Linked DNA regions of Homo sapiens: region 2 is linked to region 1. Evidence: fine-mapped expression QTL. Tissue or cell type: fibroblasts. Region 1 holds a variant in brackets; the other region holds the start of a gene. All regions are shown on one strand. Distances are from middle to middle. Region 1 overlaps DZIP1L (DAZ interacting zinc finger protein 1 like). Region 2 holds the start of A4GNT (alpha-1,4-N-acetylglucosaminyltransferase).

Region 1 (2,918 bases):
TAACATTAAATGCACAAAATGTAGCAGATATGAAAGAAACCACAGTACATGTGTGATGATAAATGGCAACTCATTCTCCATCTTATTGTCCAAGGTACAATAAGGCAGTGGTTCTCAAAGTGTGGTCTCTGGACCAGCAGCATCAGCATCACCTGGGAATTTGTTAGAAATGCAGATCCCCAGACTTACTGATTTAGAACCACTAAATCTGTGGAGTGCTGGGCTAGGAAACATTAGGGATTGTGGCAAACCTGAGAGTGCAGGCCCTGTTTAAGGTGGGAAACCACTATTGAGCTCCAGCCACAGGGGAATGGATTTTGTGTTCCTTATTGGCTAATTCCAAATACACTGAGTGATATTCAAAGACTTTGATGAACTGCTTCCAAAAGTACCTCTCTAGCTGCATCTCCCATTTACCATATTACTTGCCTTCCACACTTTCACACTTCTGGGCTGTTTATTTTATGTATAGACACTGTTTTTAAATGCTTTACAAAGAAGCACTCATCTATTTCTCAGGACAAGCCCTTGAGGAGGTACTATTATCATCTAAGCCACAGAGAAATAAAGAAGCTTGCCCAAGATCCAGAGGCAAGATTCACACCCAGGCAGCCTGGCTCCAGTCTGGGCTAGCCTCTATTCTATGCTGCCTCTTGGTATAGATGGTCCTTTGCCACCTCCTTTTGTTCCAATTAAAGGTTGACACATGTTTCAAGGCCCTGCTTATAAATGATTACCACCATATGGGAGTGTAAATTAGTTCAACCATTATGGAAGACAGTGTGGCGATTCCTCAAGGATCTAGAACCAGAAATACAAATTGACCCAGCAATCCCATTACTGTGTAGGTACCCAAAGGATTATAAATCATTCTACTATAAAGATACATGCACACATATATTTATTGCAGCACTATTAACAATAGCCAAGACTTGGAACTAACCCAAATGCCCATTAATGATAGACTGGATGAAGAAAATGTGGCACATATACACCATGGAATACTCTGCAGCCATAAAAAATAATGAGTTCATGTACTTTGCAGAGACATGGATGAAGCTGGAAATCATCATTCTCAGCAAATTAACACAGGAACAGAAAACCAAACACAGCATGTTCTCACTCATAAGTGGGAGTTGAACAATGAGAACACACAGACACAGGGAGGGGAATATCACACACCGGGCTTCCTGATATCCCAGCTCTCAGGGCTTAAAACCTAGATGACGGGTTCATAGGTGCAGCAAAACACCATGCATGTATACCTATGTAACAAACATGCACGTTCTGCACATGTATCCCAGAACTTAAAGTAAAATTAAAAATAAAATAAATAGATCCCATTTGTCTATTTCGGCTTTTGTTACCATTGCTTTTGGTGTTTTAGTCATGAAGTCCTTGCTGGAAACCATCATTCTGAGCAAACTATCACAA[G/A]GACAGAAAATCAAACACGGCCTGTTCTCACTCATAGGTGGGAATTGAACAATGAGAACACTTGGACACAGGAAGGGGAACATCACACACCAGGGCCTGTTGGGGGATGGAGGGCTGGGGGAGGGATAGCATTAGGAGAAATACCTAATGTAAATGACGAGTTAATGGGTACAGTAAACCCACATGGCACATGTATACATAATGTAACAAACCTGCACGTTGTGCACAGGTACCCTAGAACTTAAAGTATAATAATAAAAAAAAACTTCCCACAATAAAATAAATAAATAAATAAATGATTATCACCATAAATCCCTGCTACGCTCACAGTCAAAGTTCCCTGCCCCTCCCCTGGGCTTCCAGAGCGCACAGCATACACTTTGTCTGTTAGGGTGTCTCTGCAACATTCATATCTCCATCCCATCAACAAATGATTCCTGAGGCCCTACTAAGTGCCAGGCATCATGACTGGCACTCGGGATCAATGTTGACCTGGGCAACTATCCCTGCCGTTGTTAATAAAAATAGTTCACATTTCTGGAATTCTATTATTTTCCATACACAGTGCTAAGGCTTTACATGTATTATCCCACTTAATTCTCACAACAACCTATTATGCAGATGAAGAAACAGAGTGTGATCAAAGAGAGGAAACAGAGAGAGGAAACAAACAGGGGAAATGACTTTCCCACAGTCACACAACTAGTAAGTGATAGTGTCTGGCTCCAAAGTTTTTTTCTCCAGAGAGACAGAAAAATACACAGAAATTAACCCACAGAGCGGCAAGTGCCAAGACAGGAGCTGGGAAAGGGTTCTCTGGGAACACCAAGGAAGGGCCCATACCAGGATGCTTCTGTCTCCTTCCTCCCCCACTCCCCTGGCTGTGAACTTTACAGGGGCTGAGACCATGGCTTATTCGTATCTGCTGTATCCCAGTCCCCAGCCCATTACCTGGCACCCAGATTGCTACTGAACGGAGCAAAATTGTTGAAATCTCAGCATATCTGACTTAAAAATTCTGTTATTCTTAGGGTCTTGAAGTAATGGGGCTATGGACTGCCAAGAGTTAGTACAAAGAGTAAAAGCTGAGTAGGAATCCTTCATTCGGACTCATTGGAGGGAAATGCCACTCAGACTTAGTAAATGCTTTATTTGTTGACCATCTGCATCCAGAGTTTAATCCCATGGGCAAGTAATAAGAGCTGAGAGTGCAGGAGTCCCGGCAGGTGGAATCAGGCATATCAATGAGAAGTCGCAGTGCCCACGCTGACTGTCAAGATATGGCCTCAGTGTTGGAGCTTGCTTCCTGAGCAGCCCTGAAACCTTCATACTTACACTCTGAGCATACTCCATAAACACAGAAGGTGGCTGCCCCACTCCCAACTACACAGAATTAGGGGTCTGAGTTCATGAGGTTTTAATGTACCTCAAAAGTATTACTCATGTCTTTTTCTAGAACCCTAAGGGTCCAATTCTTAGATGTC
Region 2 (2,846 bases), 22 kb after region 1:
TCTGAGGTCTCTAGAAACACAATGCCACGTCTGTGGCTCAGGAGGGCTTCCAGCCCCTGGTGGGACTTGAAAGAAGGCAAACAGAAGAGGCAGCTGGACTTCAGGGTGAACTGGTAGAGGAAGCCACAGACAAGCAGCAAGGTGACTGACAGGGAGAGCTGGAGCTCCTTCCGCATGTCCTCTTCTCTGTGCCAGCCTGCTCCTTTAAATCAACACAATTAATTAAAAATCACAGCTGCAAAACCTGACAAAGATAGCACACAAGAAAATGATACATGAATATCATTTAAAAACTTAAATTTTAAATATCCTAAATAAAATATGATGAAATCAAGTCCAGCAATATTAAAAAAAAAATGCAGCCAGGCATGGTGGCATATGCCTGTAGTCCCAACTACTAGGGAGGCTGAGGCAGGAGGATCCCCTGAGTCCAAGAGTTCAAGACTAGCTTGGGCAGCATAGTGAAAATCATCACAAAAATTTAAAAAAAAAGAAAAAGAAAAAGACAAGAAATATGTGAGAAAGAAAAATGCATCATAACCAATCAGGATTTATCTTAGATTTTAAAATGATTTGACATTAAAAATAATTAGTTAATAGGGAAAACTATTGATAAAATGCATTATCTTAACAGTCTAAAGAAGAAAAGCCATATGATCATTTTGGCTCAAGAGATGCCAAGAATGTGACTAACTTTAAGATCCATTCACAATTTTTTTAAAGTACAAGGAAACTTTCTTAAGCTGATTTTAAACAATGTCTACCAGAACATATAGCAATTATCATACTTAATATGAAACATTTGAAACATCCCATTAAGATCAGGAATATGATATGAATGTCCATTGTCATTGTCACTGACATCATTGGTTACAATCTGATAATTGTAACCAATGCAATAAAACAAGAGAAATGAATTTCTACTACGAATATTAAAAGAGGCAAAAGTATCTCTAGGTTCAGAAAACATAACTGAAAAACTAATAGAACTAAGAAAAAAAATTAACAAAGGAAGCAAACTGAAGGCTAAAGAGTTAAATAAATTGCCAAGATCACACGATTAGCAAGTAGCAGAGCTGTGACTGTAACTTGCATCCACCTGCCACCAAAGTCCAGGCTCTGAACCGTTACCTGCAGTGCTTTCCTCACCAAAAATGTTAGCTCTAACCAAGGAGAACACAGATCTCACGTCTTGGCAGGTCTATCTTTCAAATTACATATAACCCTTTTAGAAAATACAAAACAGTGAATCAGAGCCTAACTTCTAGCTGCAAATGCAGTTAACCAGTATTTGAGGTCTTAGAAATGACAAGTTCTTCCTGCTACACTTTCTGATAAATCACCACCCAATCTTCCAACTCAACAACACAGGGGTAAGTAAATCATTGGCAGATTGAGACTAAACACAAAAAGTTCCCAGGAAGCTCCTCCCTTTACTAAGTTCTCCCAAACACAGCCACTTGGGAACAAGAGGGGTTTACCAGATTTTTAAGGTGACCCACACACTAATCCTGCCTGTTTGTGGATCTATTATGGGGGTTATAAAGGGATTATTTCACCTGGAGAAAACTGTATCCTGGCATAACCTTGGAGCCAACATATCCTGCACTTGATCAGTTTAGCTTGAATCAAAATTATGGACAGAGACCCTGTAAGGTGGTACAAACTCCCCTTTGCAAGCACAAAGTTTGATTAAAAGGAAAGAGAGCCCATCACCACAAATAAGCAATGAACAAAGCCCTGCAGTCCAAAGGCCCAGTGATCTAGAATGAGAAGTGATTCCCCAGTGTCAGTCACAGTGGCTGCAGGAAGGCTCCTTTTTCCCCAAGGTCCCCCTTATGGGGTATAAGCCTCGTCCCAGTCTCAGGAAGCCAGCTTTGTTGTCCTCCACTGATGTGGCAGTCCCCACATTTCCCAAGGTGTTAGCACTCACCTGTGGCCTATTCTCCACCGCCCCTGAAATGAGCTCTTAGCAATCTTCTTTGGAGCCATCCTCTGCTGAGAGTCACCTGTCTTGGCCATGAGCAGGTATTCACAGTTCCCCCTGGATGCTCTAGTGTGAGCAGGTAGGCCTGCTCCTGAGCAGACTTTAGATTCTAACATAGCAGGTCCTACATGAAGGGAGTTAAAGCTGCCCCACTCATTGATGGCTTCTGGTTTTCTATGTGTCCAAGGACCCCAGAAACAGCTTGTAGGTCTCCACAAACCTCTTCCTTTTGGAGCTGAATTTCTTCTCTGGACCTCATTAATTCTGGGCTCAGAGTGCCTTGGCATCTTTCCAAAGTTCTCTGTAATTGGACAGATTGGTTGTTCTTTCCTATGAAGGGGAGTGGAGATTAGTGCTCCTGCTCCTTGCCCAGGGGTAACTAGAGGACCCCATCTGTGGGAGTGATAACACATTCCTGGGCCTCAGGTGGGTCACATATCTTAGTGCCTCCCAACTGCTAGCCCAGTGGCTAAAACTATTGAACAAGTGGTCAAGGCAGAGATCAGTGATGTAGTTAATGGCCTTTGTCAGGTGAGGATGAATGTGAGCATCAGCAATGCAGTGAAATCCCAAGCACAAAAGTAGGACCTATCTGACCAAGAACCAAGTAGAAAGCATGATGGAAGTAGCACTGAGCTTGGAGTTATGCCTCCAGCCACCACAGGCTGAGGGCACTAGACAAGCCCCTAAACTGCCCAGAGCCTCAACTCCCTTGAAAAGTGCAGAAAATGACCGACCTCAGGCTCACTGTGAGAATGAAAGTTCTCTTTAAACCAAAGAAGTTATTGTCACTTTCTACCAAGGAAAATAGAAGAGAAAAATAGAATTATATCAATATGGATGGTATTTGTACTCCCTG

What was found. PIP is the estimated chance that this variant, and not a neighbour inherited with it, causes the effect.
Region 2: it holds the start of A4GNT, and the variant in region 1 is fine-mapped to the expression of A4GNT in fibroblasts (GTEx, PIP 0.93).

The regions. Positions count from the first base shown.
Region 1 is chr3:138,108,765-138,111,682 of GRCh38, forward strand. All of the region lies in intron 1 of DZIP1L (DAZ interacting zinc finger protein 1 like), which reads right to left. Among named protein-coding and RNA genes, the nearest start is that of DZIP1L, 5.4 kb to the right of the region's middle. The variant G/A (reference allele first, on the strand shown) is at 1,435.
Region 2 is chr3:138,131,081-138,133,926 of GRCh38, forward strand. It overlaps A4GNT (alpha-1,4-N-acetylglucosaminyltransferase), which reads right to left and starts at 1,310. Exons shown (of 3, transcript NM_016161.3): 1 at 1,132-1,310; 2 at 1-202. The coding sequence starts at 176.